Homo sapiens: one gene and its partners. The protein of the gene in region 2 interacts with the protein of the main gene of each other region in a pairwise test. Each region holds a gene or a part of one and is shown on either strand. Other genes may lie near its edges.

The links.
Region 1: the proteins of LASP1 (region 2) and YES1 interact in binary tests that used the Homo sapiens proteins (3 or more experiments, as listed by UniProt).
Region 3: the proteins of LASP1 (region 2) and GCM2 interact in binary tests that used the Homo sapiens proteins (3 or more experiments, as listed by UniProt).
Region 4: the proteins of LASP1 (region 2) and INTS11 interact in binary tests that used the Homo sapiens proteins (3 or more experiments, as listed by UniProt).

The regions. Positions count from the first base shown.
Region 1 is NC_000018.10:735,671-739,558, reverse strand, and holds part of YES1 (tyrosine-protein kinase Yes), read left to right. Parts: intron 1-2,597; coding exon 2,598-2,751; intron 2,752-3,888. UniProt on the Homo sapiens protein: Non-receptor protein tyrosine kinase that is involved in the regulation of cell growth and survival, apoptosis, cell-cell adhesion, cytoskeleton remodeling, and differentiation.
Region 2 is NC_000017.11:38,917,873-38,923,148, reverse strand, and holds the end of LASP1 (LIM and SH3 domain protein 1), read right to left. Parts: intron 4,545-5,276; coding exon 4,371-4,544; 3' UTR 1,379-4,370; downstream 1-1,378. UniProt on the Homo sapiens protein: Plays an important role in the regulation of dynamic actin-based, cytoskeletal activities.
Region 3 is NC_000006.12:10,879,170-10,883,624, forward strand, and holds the start of GCM2 (chorion-specific transcription factor GCMb), read right to left. Parts: upstream 2,873-4,455; 5' UTR 2,625-2,872; coding exon 2,535-2,624; intron 1-2,534. UniProt on the Homo sapiens protein: Transcription factor that binds specific sequences on gene promoters and activate their transcription. Through the regulation of gene transcription, may play a role in parathyroid gland development.
Region 4 is NC_000001.11:1,318,089-1,321,976, forward strand, and holds part of INTS11 (integrator complex subunit 11), read right to left. Parts: coding exon of another isoform or gene 3,820-3,888; intron 3,006-3,819; coding exon 2,908-3,005; intron 2,442-2,907; coding exon 2,368-2,441; intron 1,437-2,367; coding exon 1,208-1,436; intron 1-1,207.

The DNA of each region.
Region 1 (3,888 bases), on a different chromosome or scaffold from region 2:
TAGCTCCGTGCTTGAAGAGCCTTGAATTCTTGGGCTCTAGCAATCCTCTCGCCTCAGCCTCCTGGGTAGCTAGGACTGCAGGCACAGGCCACCATTCCCAGCTAATTTAAAAAATTATTTTTTTTGTAGACACAGGGATCTCTCTGTGTTGCTTAGGCTAGTCTCAAAGTCCTTGGCTCAAAGGATCCTCCCACCTCAGCCTCCCAAAGTATTGGGATTACCTGGCCAATAATGGAATTTTAGAACTGGCAGGAACGTCAGAGATAATCCAATGTGAGCTCTTAATGATACAGATTAATGAAGTATCAAAAGATGAGAGGTATCTAAAATTCACAAAACTTGTTAGTAACAGAACGAGTATTAGAACCAGCTATCTAACTCTTAGTCCAGTGGTGTCCTGTATCATACGGTTTCTTAGAAAATAGATGTTTCCAGGCCAGGTGCGGTGGCTCACGCTTGTAATCTGAGCACTTTGAGAGGCCGAGGTGGGTGGGTCACTTGAGGTCAGGAGTTCGAGACCAGCCTGGCCAACATGGTGAAACTCTGTCTCTACTAAAAATACTGAAAATTAGCCAGGCGTGGTGGCGGGCGCCTGTAATCCCAGCTACTCAGGAGGCTGAGGCAGGAGAATCGCTTGAACCCGGGAGGCGGAGGTTGGAGTGAGCCAAGATCTCGCCATTGCACTCCAGCCTGAGCAACAAGAGCGAGACTCCATCTCAAGAAAATAGATGTTTCCACAAATGTAAAGTCTATATGTATTTATATTTCAACAGATAATTTTAAGAAAATTAAAATGGATGAGGGCTGTTCCAAAGAAAATATTAGTAATCTAAAGTGTATGCTGAATTTTTTTTTTTTTTTTTTTTTTGAGATGGGAGTCTCGCTCTGTCACCCAGGCTGGAATGCAGTGGTGCAATCTCGGCTCACTGCAAGCTCCATCTCCCAGGTTCACACAATTCTCCCGCCTCAGCCTCCCGAGTAACTGGGACTACAGGCGCCCACCACCACCCCCAGCCAATCTTTTGTATTTTTAGTAGGGACGGGGTTTCACCGTGTTCGCCAGGATGGTCTTGATCTCCTGACCTCGTGATCTGCCCGCCTCGGCCTCCCAAAGTGCTGGGATTACAGGCGTGAGCCACTGCACCTGGCCTGAATTTGTTATTTACTATAGTCCAACACAAGAATTAAGATGGTATATATACAGTTTAAAATGGGACTTTTTTACTCTTCTGACTTTTTGTTTTAAATATATAGTGAAAACTGTTAAAAGTTTCTCTTCAGATATGTGGTAGGTATTTGAGAGGCCTTATTATTGGCTTTGGTTGACATGCTGGTTTTGGAATCTTACCTCCTAGCCTCCAAATGTCCACAGAATCTGACAATTCAGAAAAGCTTTATACTGAGAAACTATACATAGGCAACAGGCATATGCCACGCCAGTTCATGCTTCTGAGTTAGACACTCTATGGTAGGGGAGGTTGGCAATCCATTTTTGTTTTTTAAAAAAAAAAAAAAATTAGGTTTTGTGAGCCACATCCAATCTGTCATACTTTTTTCTTTTTACAACCCTTTAAAAATGTAAAAACCAGGCTGTGCGAGATGGCTCCTATAATCTCGCTTTGCGGGGCCTGGGCAACATAGTGAAACCCCATCTCTACAAAAAAATACAAACATTAGCTGGGTGTGGTGTCGCATGCCTAAGTCCCAGCTACTCACTAGGCTGAGGTGGGAAAATTGCTTGAGCCCAGAAGATAGAGATTGCAGTGAGCCACGATTGCACCACTGCACGCCAACCTGCGTGACAGAGTGAGACCCCGTCTCAGTCAATCAATCAAAATGTAAAAAACAGTTTTAGTTCTCTGGCTGTGCAAAAACAGGCTGCAGGCCACTTTTGGCCTACAAGCTGTAGTTTGGGAACCTATACCTTGTGGTTAATACCTTTATCACCATGTCATCTTAGGTTGTGCCTGATAGAGACCTTGATGAGCTTGTATCCAGAGGTACTAAATTACCTTGTGATTTACCTCTTCTCCTAACCACAGACACAAGAAGACATTAGGAGGGTTAATCTTGGTCTTCAGAGTAATGTTAGGTTTTATTTTTTTTGAGGCTGAGTCTCGCTCTGTTTCCCAGGCTGGAGTGCAGTGGCACAATCTTGGCTCACTGCAACCTTTGCCTCCTGGGTTCAAGTGATTTTCCTGCCTCAGCCTCCCAAGTAGCTGGGACTACAGGTATGTGCCACCACACCCAGCTAATGTTTGTATTTTTAATAGAGACAGGGTTTCACCGTGTTGGCCAGGCTGATCTCGAACTCATGACCTCAAATGATCCACCTGCCTCGGCCTCCCAAATTAATGGGATTATAGGTGTGGGCCACCGCACCCAGCCAGTGTTAGATTTTTGAAATCTGAATTTAGCCTGCATTTTTATTATGTTTTCTGGTTTTCCTGTTATCTTCTAGACTATACCCTGTTACCATCATCTCCTTCTAAAATAATATGATTTTCAGTGACACAATTTGATATTAACCATAATTGTCTTCTCTCTGCTTCCCTTTGTATCGTATGTCTTGTGTTTTTTGTTTTTCTCTTTCCAAGATTGCTGATGGTATGGCATATATTGAAAGAATGAACTATATTCACCGAGATCTTCGGGCTGCTAATATTCTTGTAGGAGAAAATCTTGTGTGCAAAATAGCAGACTTTGGTTTAGCAAGGTTAATTGAAGACAATGAATACACAGCAAGACAAGGTAAAATTACTTTTACATAAAAGCTTGTAATGTGTTGTGTGTTTTGCTTAACTCTCTTGACTATACAGGGTTTTCCAGAATAAGAATTGTTTTAGCTTCCCTCAGAAGAGTCATAGAGACATTGATTTCATTCATAAAATCATGTACTGCTGTGGCTTTCTGATAGTTATTTCCTCCAAGAAAGAACTTGACTAGGTATCCTTTGCATTATACATAGAGCAAGTAGTAGCCTCTTTACACTTCTTTTGACATGACAACAAATATATTTTAATTTCTTTCCTAGAAAGGCCAGAGGTTCTCAGTCAGAGGAGATATTGCCCTGTACCGCCACTCACCAGGGGACATCTGACAATGTCTACAGACTTTTTTGGTGGTTACAACCTGGGGGCTACTGCTTGACATCTAGTGGGTAGAGGCCAGGTATACTGCTGAACCTCCTACAGTGTACAGAAATGTGCAGGCAAACCCCCCCTTCCCCCCACAACAGAATTATCAGGCCCAAAATGGTAGCGGTGCTGAGATTGAGAAACCCTGCTTTAGACATAGTGCTTTCTTTCAACCTCCATACTTCTGTACAGTTACCTCCATCTGGAATGCCTTCCTATCTGTAATGTTTGTTGTTGTTGTTGTTTTTCGAGATAGGGTCTCCCTCTGTTGCTCAGGCTAGAGTATAGTGGCGTGATTTCAGCCCACTGCAGCCTTGACCTCCTGGGGCTCAGGTGATCCTCCCACCTCAGCCTCCTGAGTAGCTGGAACTACAGGTGCACACTACCACGCCTGACTAATTCTTTGTATTTTTTGTAGAGACGAAGTTTTGCCATGTTGCCCAAGCTGGTCTCGAACTTCTGGGCTCAAGCAGTCCTCCTGCCTTGGCTTCCCAAAGTGCTAAAATGGCAGGCGTGAGACACCATGCCCGGCCTGTAATCTTTACATGTGAAAATCCTAACCATTCTTTAGGGCCTAATTTAGCTGCCACTTTTTTTTTCAATAGTTTTTGGGAAACTAGTTCTTTAGTGGTGATTTCAGTGCACCCATCACCCAAGCATCTTGCACTGTACCCAATATGTAGGTTTTTTTGTTTGTTTTTTTGAGACGGAGTCTCACTCTGTTGCCCAGCCCAGGCTGGAGTGTAGCGGC
Region 2 (5,276 bases):
GTGAATGAAGCCTCCCGGGGAGTGGGGCAGGCCGACATGAGGCAAGCTTTGCCAACTAATTCCCTTCTATTGGGAAAGTATTGGGCTGCCTGCACCCCTGGAGGGGAGCAGGTGTCAGTGCTGTCTCTAATTATACCACCCAGGGCAGCCTTGGATGCTCCCCACATTGCCCCAGCTCAGCTGACTCTGGCCATGTCATTCTCCAGATTACAAATGCTCAGCTCAGGAGAGCCCTCCTCCTCTCCACCCTGCTGTGATTCTGAGGCTGGAGAATTCCTTAGTTCTGAGCCCCAAGAGAGAAATGCCCCTCAAGCAGCTGGACCTGAGGCTGATTGGCAGCACTGAGCAGGGCCAGATTCCCCTCTCTACCACTGTCCTCTTCCCAAGCCCAATGAGCAAGAGGGGAGGCCGCCTGGCCTTCTGGCCAGTCACAGACCCTGGGCACCTGGAGCAAAACATGGAGCCCAGGAGACACACATCTAAGAGCTGCCACAGACACAGGCACGCGGCCTGCCATGGCCGGGTGGCACAGCACCAGACTGTGAGCATCACATGGGGGTCTCAGGCCCCACTCTGCCACTAGCTGTGACTGCCACCAATCTGCTTTGCCTTTCTGGGTTTCAGTGAGCCCCTCTATAAGTAGTTACTTCTCTCACAGGGTTGTGAGGAAGAAGGAAGAAAGGGGATGTGTATTAAAGATTACATTCAGAAGGCACTGTGAATAGTGCTTTGGGTTGCCAGGCCACCTTACAGACAGCTTTATCCAGGTCCCGTCCCACTGTGGAATGCCCTGTCATCTCGTTCCTCAAATGCGTGGAGCTCCTGCTCTCTGCCTGGCAGCGGCAGAGTGCTAGAACTGCTCCCCAGCCAAGCTCATTCATTAATTCAACAGCTCCGCACCGCTCCTGGGCAGGTACCCGGGATTTAGAGATGAATTAGACTCATCACCTGCCCCAAGGGCTCTGGCTAGTGGGGAGACAGATATGTCACTGAGGAAGTGACACAGTAATACGAGACGGAGCTCAGGGAAGCTTCCGGGAGCATCACCAAGTTGGGCAGAGAGGAATGAGCGGGTGGAAAGCCAGAAGTAGGTTGGTGGGGAGTTCTCAGCAAGGAGGAAGTAGGGGCCAAGGGCCTGACAGACAGCAGCAAACTCCCCCTTGGCATCCAGACAAGTCATTCTCTCCCCGAGGGGCAGCAGAGGTCCCAGGAGGGCCACAGGCCAGTGCCCCCAAGCAGACAGGACACACACACACACACACACACAGTGGCACCTTACAGCTAGACACACACACACACAGCAGCACCTTACAGCTAGAGACACACACCCACACACAGACACACACAACAGCAGCTCAGAGCCAGAGAGGAAACCAAGTCCGCAGGTAAAAATTATACTTTTATTTGAGTCACCAGGAGAAAGATTCACTTGTGGTTCAAGTCAAATGTTCAGAATCATAACAGGCCAGAAAGGTTTGATCCCGAGCACAAGCCCACGAGGGAGGGGACCAAAACAGACCAAAATGAGACAACAACCCCATATAAAAAGATGAACTGGCGGCTTCACACACTCACACACATACACATACACACGGATGAAATGTTTGGACAGAGGCAAATTTCACGTGGTCATTTCTGTTTCTTTTTAAATACAGGTTTGTAGGGTGGTATTTTGTTTTTTCCAGCTATAAAAAAAGGCCCAAAAGTGCATGTGTGAGGGGGGAAAGGCAGAAATTAAGCAATAAAGTCATTTTCCCTGGAGGGACATGAGAGGGAGAAAACAGGAGGCAGTGCTGGGAGAACGCACTTTCCTCACCACTGGGCTTCTTGTTATTCTTAGTATTGGTCCACAAAAGTTATATTCACATTCTAGCTTTGATGCCTCTTTCCTGGGATTAAATGAGCTGAAAGACCTCTGTGAACTGTAGAGAAGACCAGGGGCTCAGCCCAGCCCAGCCCAGCCCCTCAGGGCTCTGTGCTCTTCTAGGGATGGATGGTTTTGGTAAAGAACAGACGCCCAGCAGCCCCCGGTCACTCAGCACCAGTGTGACAGTCCCTCCTCTCTCTGGGGGTGTGTAAGAAAACGGCCCCTATTTTTAGGACAGGAAGAGTAGAGGGAGGGCCTGCAGCAAGATTCCATGACTGGCTTGCCTTATCTGGGAAGGAGAATTAAGCTGAGTGAAAACAGGCTGCTTCTTGCTGCTCCTCCCTTCCACTCACCACTCTCCCAAACTCAGGTCCTCTAAGGGGATGTGTCCCTGACCTTTGGTCCCCAAATCCACATTGTGCTTTGAGATCAAGAGGAAACAGAATGCACCAGCGCCACCCAAGACTCCCAAGAGATTCTCTGCCTCCCCGAGCCCCCAAATCGCCCAATATAAGATATTCCACTTGCCTCCACCTAGGCTGGGGCCAGAAAGGAAAAGGGATGGGTCAGGCAGGGCCTCCCCACCCACAGTCTTTTCCTCAACCTCTCATTCGGGGCAAACATCCCCAAATCAATTAACAAGCAGTTGACAAAAACACCCATGATGACTGATTGTTGAACAGGCCAATACCTTCAGGTCCTGCCCCTCACCTGTGGGTACAAGTGTGCCAAGGGACAAGAGGCCAATGGCAGGGCCTGGTTGGGCTCAGGATGAAAATGGGATGGGGACTCCCAGAGGGTGGCAAGAAAACCAGAGATGAATCAAGTGAGGCCAGGGTTGTCACAGCCACCCATGAGCAGAGAGCAGGAACTGGATATAGCACCGTCTTTCCCTCCCCATCCCCGAGGCTGTGCTTCCAGTTTTGCAGCCCTGGGACCCTCTTTCTTGCTTCAAGGGAGCTTTATGTAAGTGAGGGGGAGGTCTAGGGGAAGAGCCCCCGAGGGAGACACCCACAGGGTGACACTTCTGCCACCCTATTCTGTAGCCCCAGACAGAGATGGGGAAACATATGCCTGGAGTGACAGAGCCTTCCTCCACCGCTTAGCCCCAGCAGGCTGCAGACCCTATGGCAGCCCCAACTCCACACCAACCTCTTACCTTCCACCCTGCACACTGCAAAGGGCAGATTGGTGGGCTTCCTCCACTCAGAGATGGGGGGAAGGAGGAATTTCATTCCAAAGAAAACCTAAGGAACTTCTCTGCCCCAGGAGCCCTCCCCTCTCACTGTGGGTTCTGAGGAAACTCTCAGGGGAAGACAGCTCTTCATACCCTCACATAACCCCACCCACACACAGGCCCAGAGACACCTACAGACACACCCCCGCCCCATCTCTCACACTCACACTCACACACTTGCGTGTCAGACACCTGCAGACATACATGCTCCTGCCTCCGCACACCAGGTCTTGGAGATTTAGTGGTCCCTGCTGACTTTGTGCAGCTCCAAGTCCACTTGGCATTGGGCTGGGGAGGGGAGGTCATGGAAGGCTCTGAGACATCTTCCCATGAGGAGCAGGGAGGAGCGGCCACCTAACCCAGATCCTGGGGGCTGAGGGAGGCTGAAGACCAAAAGGTCCTGAGGCACCCTTGCCCTACACTTCGGGACCATGGCTTCCAGCCTAGGAGGCAGGCAAGGGTCCCTGGAGACTGGGGGTGGGCGTGGGGAAAGGGGCTGCGGAAGAGAACTCCTTGTTCCCCTCCTTCCGGTAGCTGTCCCTAAAATTAAGAAAGGCAAGAACCTGACCCAAGCTGTGCTTCCTCGGGAGCTCTTTGCCCGCTGCAGGTCTGCGTGGGCAGGAGGGCAAAATCACAGTGTGCGAAGGAACGCGCGGGGAGGGGATGAATTCGCCCCACAGCAGGAACCCCATTCTCCTGTTGTTGCCCCTGAGGAGGGAGGTAGGGAGAGAGACCCCAGGTGGGCAGAGCCCCCTCTTTGAGAAAGAGAGGTAGAGCCCATCCCACTGGTCCCTACACAGCGGCAGAGTCCCCATCGCCATCCCAGGAACCAAGAAGTGGATCCCACTCTGGGGAATGTAGGGAGCCCCTGACCTGGGGTCCTGGCAGTCAGGCTCACCCCAGCCCTGGAATGTGTGGGTATGTGAGGAGCTGGGCAGGAGGATGTGAGGGGAGAGAACAGAGGGGCAGGTGAGGCCCACAGGCCAACAGGTCTCCCATTCCAGCCCTGCCTCCCCCAGAGAGGCCCATGCCCGTTCCATCCAGAGAGAAAACCAAGAAGTCGATCAAGGGGGAAGCCTGCCAGAGGAGGGAGCCCGCAGAAGTGGCAGAAGAAGGCTTCAGTTGGCAAAAGAAGCTGGAAGAGGGGTAGGAATCACAAGCTGTCGCAGGTTTTAAAAAACAGAGACACTGAAGAATGGACGGGTCACGCCCAGGACGGATGCGATGCCGTGGAATGTGCTGAAGACAGATGGGGGCGCTGCGGGTTCAGATGGCCTCCACGTAGTTGGCCGGCAGCATCCCCGTGTCGCCGGTGCGCTCCACCGTCCCGTACATCCAGCCGTCGTCGATCTGCTGCACGTTGACGATGGTGTCCCCGTCCTGGAAGGAGACCTCGTCCTCGTCGGCGGCGCTGTAGTCATACACCGCGCGGTACCGCTTCTGTGGGGGAAGTGTGGTCAGCCTAGGGCCCTGCATGCCGGCTCACCTGGGTCTGAGCATTTTTTTCTAACTCTCCACGACCCTGGAGCAGAGCCTGGGGGAGCAGTGAACTCAGAAATGGAGCACCAGGCTCTGCTGCAAAGATTCTTAACCTCTGTGTCTTGCTTTCTGAGAGCAATCGATCTTTTACAACCTTTGGCAGCTACTAAGGGCCAGAGGCAGAGCAGGGACCGGGTCACATCAGCTCTGCCCCACCTCCCTGAACAGGACTGCAGTAAGGTCCACCAGCCATGATGACAGAGTAATGTCTAAAAATACGACATGCAGGCCAGGTGCAGTGGCTCACGCCTGTAATCCCAGCACTGTGGGAGGCCAAGGCAGGAGAACTGCTTGAGCCCAGAAGTTTGAAATCAGCCTGGGAAACACAGTAAGACCCCCCAACTCCCTCTTTTTTTTTTTTTTTTTGAGATGGAGTCTTGCTTTGTCACCCAAGCTGGAGTGCAATGGTGTGATCTTGGCTCACTGCAACATCCGCCTCCCGGGTTCAAGCGATTCTCCTGCCTCAGCCTCCCAAGTAGCTGGGACTATAAGCGTGTACCACCATGCCCGGCTAATTTTTGTACTTTTTTGTAGAGACAGGGTTTCATCATGTTGGCTACGATGGTCTCAAACTCCTGGTCTCAAGTGATCCGCTCGCCTCGGCCTCCCAAAGTACTAGCGTGAGCCCATCTC
Region 3 (4,455 bases), on a different chromosome or scaffold from region 2:
TCACAAATGAAATATATAATGATGTGCTATCAACTCCAAGCTTATATTAAATGCTAATATCTTTGTTTTAAAAGTGAATATTTTAACTTAAGGATCTTAGTAACAAATTGACAATTTTCCAGAAAACAGCATTTCTTTAGCTCTCCCTTAAGGATGTAGACTAGGCCCCCATGCCTCACACGAGCTACTGAGGTAGTGACCCTGGCAATGAAGCCACAGAGATTGTATTTTTAAAATCAGTACAAGAATAGAGGATGTCAAGGATTGGGTTTCACTTGCTCTCAAGTGTTGGCATGTTGTGTGTGTGTGTACATACACACACATAGACACTGAACCTGATCGTAGACCTGGAGGAGAGTTTGAGATGGTTATCTCACTCTACCACTTGATGACAAGTGAGTAAGTAGCCTGAGACTAAGGCAAATTCAAGGACTCTCTCAAGGTCAGACAGGTAGTTTAACTTGCTCACTCGGTTACCCAGAGCAGGGCGATGCTAAGTTTCTTCACTTCTCCATGTCCCAGTGTGCCTGGCCCGTTTGAGATATTACACACATGCTTCCTGCTTAACAACCAGTCTCCTAAAAAAAAGTTCATATTGACATGGGAAGTCTAGCAAATGCTTGAGAGATGAACCATAATTACATTACTTGGATGTGACTTTTCTAAAATGCAAGATATGATTGTTTCCTGTGAAGATGTACATGGACAGAAACAGAATGAGATGCACTTGCTGTACTGTGGTCCACTTTCATGAAAATGGTACCATGTGACTCTAAAGTAGGCAGACTTTAAAACAAAGGAGTGGGCCAGGCACGGTGGCTCACGCCTGTAATCCCAGCACTTTGCGAGGCTAAGGCGGGTGGATCAGCTGAGGTCAGGAGTTCGAGACCAGCCTGACCAACATGGAGAAACCCAATCTCTACTAAAAATACAAAATTAGCTGGGCGTGGTGGCGCATGCTTGTAGTCCCAGCTACTCGGGAAGCTGAGGCAAGAGAATCGCTGGAGCCTGGGGGATGGAGGTTGCAGTGAGCTGAGATCGTGTGATTGCACCCCAGCCTAGGCAACAAGAGCTAAACCCCGCCTCAAAAAACAAACAAACAACAACAAAAAACCCCAACAAACAAACAAAAACAAAGGAGTAAAACACACCTAACCTACTACAAATATATGGATCCAAAAAAGTGCTGACCTCTATGAGAGGCGACACAATGTTGCAATGAATTGTTATTCATCTGAACACCTATCAGACACATTTTAGTTGCGGACAAAATGACCCATCTCTTTTATCCCTGTGCCACAACATTGCTGGAAGCCCACATCTGCAAATGGCAGGGAAGCAACTCTCATTCTACACCCCCCACCCCCTACAGCCAGGACTTCAACATCACTCAATTTTGGCCCTAACCAGTGTGACTAATGATAATTGGTCATTCTCTGGAACTGGCTTCAAACCACCCACTTCATTCACCACTTCATCCACCCCAGTCATTCTTTGGACTTGGCTCCAAACCATTTTTGCTTTATTGAAATAAAGCAAAATACAACAAATTCACCCTAAAAGAATGATGATTTGCTTGTCATTAGAGAAGAAGTAAGTTTTGGGTACAGGTGGCCTTGTTGGCATGACTATGGGGCCTCCTTCCTCTGAGCAGTTAGGGAGGTCTGAGCAAATTGCTCAAGTCGGGCTACTTGTTTTAAATTTAGGTCATTAGATTCACTTTACAGTTGTACCTCAGTTTTGCTGCATGAGAAGCAGTGGTATTTACATCTGCTTAGATTTTCTCCTTAGCTTCCTCATGGATTTAAAGTAAATGAATAAGGAGAGAGGCACCTAATTTCTACCTTGGTTAAAGGGAAGTGAAAGGACAGGCGTCCCGCTCTCCCCAAGACTGGGAATGTGGAGCCTGACCAACATTTCCTGCTGCTTTGCTTGTGATTTCAGGCAAGCACAAGGAAATTGCTGGGAGAAGACACATTTCTTCTTCTTCTTCTTCTTCTTTTTTTGAGATGGAGTTTTGCTCTTGTTGCCCAGGCTGGAGTTCAATGGCGTGATCTTGGCTCACCGCAACCTCTGCCTCTCGGGTTCAAGCGATTCTCCTGCCTCAGCCTCCCGAGTAGCTGCGACTTTAGGCATGCGCCACCACGCTGGGCTGATTTTGTATTTTTGGTAGAGACGGGGTTTCTCCATGTTGGTCAGGCTGGTCTTGAACTCCCGACCTCAGATGATCCACCCGCCTCAGCCTCCCAAAGTGCTGGGATTACAGGTATGAACCACAGCGCCCGGCCAAGAAGACACATTTCTAAACCCAACTCAGCCTTTTGTAGAGTCCAGTTTTCTTTCTACACTTGAGAGGGCCTCAGAAACCCAGAAATTTTGCGGGTATGTGTGTGTGTGTGTGTGTGTGTGTGTGTGTGTGTGTGTGTGTGTGTGTGTGTATGGTCCGTCCGCAGACTCTTCAAGAACTCGAATGCCATTCTCCCTCCTTCGGATGGACAGCGCCCCGCGTGCCCGCACACACCCGGTTCACTTACCTGAGGCATCTGCGGATCGTTGATGTCCCAGCTGAGCTGCATCCCGTAGGAGCACACGCCGACCGCTTCCTGCACCGCGGCCGCCGGCATCTGCCCAACTCGCTCGCGCTTTCCGCCCAGGGTTCTGAAAAATAGAAGAAAAAAGGACAGGTGCGCCAGGTGGGTTTTTTTTCTTCTCTTTAAAGAAGAAAGTGGGGTGTGTGAAGGGGAGGTGCAGAGAGAGAGAAAGAGAGAGAGGCTGTTTAGATATCTGGAAGCTGGGGACAATGGTTATGGACCCGGGCGGGGCCTTGTCCTTGGCCGCGGTGCTGAACGTTCTCCACCCGAACGGCAGCATCGACCTCTGGCAGCTGCCCCCTCCTTTATAAAGATATACCTCCGGGGGGCTCCGCCCTGTCTCGCCTACCTCGCTAGCGCCCACGCTCCAGGGGCCGGTCGCCCCCTCCACCACAGTCCCAGGAACGGAGGTGGAGGTTAAACTCAGCCCTGGAAGCAAATGGAAACTGCAGCCAGAGGGTGGGGGTGGAGAGGGTAAGTAGGAATGTATCCTTTAAGTTTAAAACCTTATTATTTTCTTCTTTTCTTTTCTTCTTTTTTGTCTCACTCTGTTGCCCAGGCTAGAGTGCAGTGGCGCCATCTCAGCTAACTGCAACCTCTGCCTCCCAGGTTCAAGCGATTCTCCTGCCTCAACCTCCCGAGTAGCTGGGAATACAGGTCCGTGCCACCACCCTGGCTAATTTTTGTATTTTTAGTAGAGACAGGTTTTAGCCATGCGAAACCCTGACCAAGCTGGTCTTGAACTCCTGACGATCTGCCCGCCTGGGCCTCCCAAAGTGCTGGGATTACAGGCGTGAGCAACCGCGACCGGCCTATTTTTTTTCTTTTTTCTAAACGCGTCCAGCTTCCCTGATTTCGGAAAGGGGCTTAGATGGAGGCTTTCCAGCAAAGTCCCCTGAGAGCCAACACTCAATTCCAGGAGAGCATGGGAACCGTGCGTGGGCCCCTCTGCCGTCCGCGTGCGCCCTAGCCTGAATAACCGCGCCCACGCCTCCTAGTTAGGGGTCAGCCCATTTTGGGCCTCCACTGCCGGCTCTTCCCCTAACTATTGTGAGTGTCTCGCAGTCTTGGCTCTGCTGTTTGGGACGTGCCAGGGTGCGCCAAGCCTCCGCGTATGCTCGCGAGCCCAGGCGCCTTCACGCTCCCGGGGACTTCGGAGGGACCTGGCCCTGCAGGAACGGAGTCCTACAAAGTGAACCTGGAGGAGGTGGGGGGCGGAAATGAGCCCGGGGTAGGTGGGAGCCTGGGGTAGGTGGGAGCCTGGGGAAGGAGGGAAAGGGGAGAGGGGAAAAGTCCCAAAGAACTCGCTTTCTCCACTGCTTTGGCTCCCTCTGGGTCTCAGCTTCCTTATCTGTTTATCTGTTAAATAAGAGGTTGTGGTTCGGCGAGCTCTCAGTTGCCACCCACCCGAACACAAATCTTTTTTTTTTTTTTTTTTTTTGAGACGGAGTCTCACTCTGTCTTCCCGGCTGGAGTGCAGTGGCGCAATCTCGGCTCACTGCAACCTCCGCCTCCCAGGTTCAAACGATTCTCCTGCCTCAGCCTCCCGAGTAGCTGGAACTACAGGCGCGCCATCGCGACCAGCTAATTTTGTATTGTTAGTAGAGACAGGGTTTTACCAAGTTGGCCAGGATGGTCTCGATTTTTTGACTTCGTGATCCTCCTGTCTCGGCCTCTCAAAGTGCTGGGATTAAAGGCGTGAGCCACCGCGCCCGGCCCACAACTCTTAAAAAAAAACTTCACTGATATAGTCTTGGAAATATCACGACGAAATTGAATTTACTCCATTACAGTCTTGGGAGGCTTTGGAGGACTAGAGAATCGCGGTGGTGCGGAGGTGCGCAGGACAATGTGGGTTCTCCGG
Region 4 (3,888 bases), on a different chromosome or scaffold from region 2:
CTCGATCTCCTGACCTCGTGATCCGCCTGTCTCGGCCTCCCAAAGTGCTGGGATTACAGGCGTGAGCCACCGCGCCTGGCCAAGGCAAATAAAAATTGACAGAATTCAGCACCAGCAGACCCACACTCATATTCTTCAGGCAGAAGGCAAATTATCCCAAGTAAAAAGTAGAAAAAATGCAGGAAGCCCAACAAAAAGGATAAATATATAAATAAAACTAAGCAAATGTTGGTGTTACCAGGCATTAGAAATGATGTCTTTCTGGGTTTAAAATGTACTGAGGGAGTTGCCAGGTGTGGTGACTCATGCCTGTAATCCGAGCACTTTGAGAGGCTGAGGTGGGAGGATCCCTGGAGCCCAGCCCAGGAGTTCGAGAGCCTTAGCAACACATACCCATCTCTACAAAAAATACCAAAATAAATTAGCTGGGCGTATGGGCACATGCTTGTAGTCCCAGCTACTTGGGAGGCCGAGGTGGGAGATCACCTCAACCCGGGAGGCCGAGGCTGCAGTGAGCCAAGATCACACTCCAGCCTGGGTAACAAAGTGAGACACTGTCAAAAAAAAAAAAAAATTAAAGTTTCACAACAAAAAAGATAAACATACTTCATTTTGACAAGTTCAATCAGAAAATTAAATGTTCCAAAATACATAGGTACCTAATATAGTTTCAAGAAATATAAAAGCAATACCCAGAGATTCGAGTGAGACACAGACAAACCCATAATCTTTGTCAGAAATGGAATTTCACCTGTCACTCGCTGATTTAACCTTCACTTCTTCCCTGACCCACACCCAGAACCAGGCACCCTCCAGAGCTGGCCCATCTCCCCTCCAGCCCCTGCCTCCCTGCCCGGCAACACCCCGGGAGCTCCAGCGAGTCTCTGGCCGCTCCAAGCGCTCTGAGGGCACCAGCCTGTCCCACTCTGGCCATTTCAATGCCGCTCGGACAGAGCCTGGTGGGTTCATAAGCCGGTGCATACCCCCACCCTGCACGTGCTCTCCCGGGTCGGCGCCCAGTCTGGTCTGGGACCCGCATCCTCGCGCTGACGCCTCCTGGTGTCCCCACGGTGCTGGACGCAAGAGTGAGGTGGGGTGGGCTCACCCTGAGGCCCCAGCCTTCCAGAAACTGTGTAGAACGGGCGGAGGGCATGGTTGGTGTGGGGGTGGGCAGTGACTGTGCCAGCTGTGGCCCTGGGAACCTGACCTGGACCGTCTGGTGGAGGTGGACAGCCACCACCTTCTTCATGCAGTCTTTGATCATCTGGGAGGTGAAGAAGTTGGCCTCGCCCTTCTTGTCTACGGCGATCTTGCGGTAGTCCTCCAGCAAGATGGGGCAGATGGCCTGGGTGGGGTGAGTCATGTAGATGGGCCCGTCGTAGCCCACCATCTCGCTGAAGTAGGGGAGTGCCCCGCAGTGGTCCAGGTGGAAGTGGCTAGGGGGACGCAGCACAGGTCAGCCTGGGCCCACCCTGCCCCAGCCTTCACCCCCGCTCTGGGCTTGTGGGTCACTGGCCCCTTCATTCGCCTGCTGTGCGCCAGGCCTCATCCCGAGTACCGAAGAGTCAGTAATGAGCAAACACAAAACTGTCTCCCTGGAACTTTCAGTCTCAAAGTCTAGCAAGGCAATAAGCAAACGGGAAATTGAACACGTCGGTGACGGCGACATGCTCGCGAGACAATGCAAAGCTGCTGAGGGAACCGCGCATAGGGGAGCCGCTGGCTTTTCAGGCAGTCAGGACAGGCTGAGTGGAGCTGCAGGTGAAGGTGGCACAGACCTGAGGGCAAGGGCAGCGCCTGGCAAGCCCCAGGAAGGCACTGGGGACCCCACCGTGTCTGAGAAGAAACCACAACCACGAGGGGCTCAGGGGCAGCTGAGGACACTGCCTCCGGAGAGGAGAAGGGGCTTCTCCAGGCTTCACGGGCCTGGCTGCTGGGGAGGACAGGGCAGGGAAGGGCAGGGGGCCAGCAGGAGTGCTGTGGCCGTCCAGACGAGGCCACCCAGACCAGCGGGTCATGAGCTGCTGAACCCTAAAGGCTGGGGTCAGGGCAGACTCGGGACTCTGGAATCGCCAACAAGACAGTGGGGTTTAAAGATCCTGAGACAGTGAAGGCATCAGAGAGGGTGAAGCCTGGAGGGCCGGGTTCAGAAAGTAGGGTTCAGAGGGCAGGGCCGGAAGAACAGACAGAGACCAGGCCATGTGTGTGACCAGTAAGGCAGGCAGGGAGCAGATCCTGGGGCCTAGAAGCCCCCTGAGGATCAAGGATGGCACAGGCCCCTTGCCAAACGCTGCCGAGACCAAGCAAGGTGGCCCAAGCCCCACAGGCACAGACATGGGACCCTCAAGGCCCCCAACAGGAACCCACCTAATGATCACACAGTCCAGGAAGTCTGTTAGGCGGCCGTTCTGGGTGATGTAGGAGAAGTCAGGGAAGCGTCGCTAGGAAGGATGTGGGGGTTTCAGGTTGCACAGTGGTCTCCAGGCAGCATCTGGGGCCACCCATGCCCCAGGGAGGGGCCCCCAGGAAGGGGGGTTCTATGTGCAGACTCAGGCTGGGCACTCCCATCCCGCAGGTGGCACCAGGACCCCTGGCTGCTCACAGCATCCGGAGGGGCCGAGGTTACCCCCAACCTCACTGACAGATGTGAGCTGGAAGCTGAGCCCAGGGTCTCACGGAGTCCAGCCTACAGGACCCCGGGGCTGGGGCTCAGCGCCAGCACAGGGGGACCCCACCATGCAGGGGCTCACCTCGGCCAGGCCCACCCATCCCTGCTCCCCACAGGGTGCAGCCATCCAAGCACAACCACTGCTGCCCACCACCCCACTGTCCCGGCTCTGAGGCCCAGGGTCCAGCTGTGGATGGCCGGCTCTCCCAGCCTCTGGGCCTCCTGCCCAAGGGACTCACGTCGTCATTGAAGCCCATGTGCATTCCACAGTCCAGCATGACATTCTTGCCCGCAATGGAGACCAGGATGCAGCTTCGGCCCACGTCCTGGCCGGCCCCTACTCGAGGGAGGGCAGATGAGTCACTGCTGCGCCCCCCGCCCCCTGTGCTGCCTCCCCAAGCTCTGCAGGACCCCAGTGCACTGAGGAAACCGGACCAAGTCTGCTGTGTGGACAGACACATGGGCCAAGAAGCAGGGCCACCCCTACTCACAGGAAGGGGGACACAGGGGACCATGCCCCACACCATCATGTCCAGGGTGGAGGCTGGCAGCCCACACGCCCTCCCCCGCCAGCTTCCCCTGGCCTCTTAAGGTGGCCACGGCCTGCTGGCTAAGTAGTGGGCACTGTGCTGTGGCCCTCAGCCTCCAACAGAGACAACGGCTGGTCTGTGGGGCCAACACCTCGGTCAGAGTCACTCCTGGGCTGTGGCTGGACCCCCAGCAGAGCTGCAAACCAATGAGGCCACCTTCTCCAGGATCTTTCCCCAGGCAGGCAAGGCAGTAAGTGACTAAGTGCTGGCACTGGGTGTTCTCTGGTGGTGCGGCTGTGGAGGGGCGCCACACAGCCTCAGCCATGCCATAGCGAACACGGTGCCAGTGGTCCAGCAGTGGCCAGCGTGGCAACACGAGCCTCACACCACTGCACACCATGCAGCCCCCAACACAGACCCTCATCTGCAGCCCTCCCACACTCCTGACAGCCAAGCAGCCCTGCCCAGCTGCTCCAGCCAGAGGCCTTGGCCAGCCAAGGCACACTCAGCCCCCTCATGTGGCCTGGGGGCCCGAGAGGAAAGGGTCACGGCCCCTGCACAGACTGTGCCTGGGCAGGAGTCTGATGGCAGTGAACAGTTTTCCCCTTGAATCCCACCCACCTCCCCCTGCCAGCCACTCGAAGTGTCCAAAGCCAGCACCACACATCAGGATGACGGGGCCACAGCCGA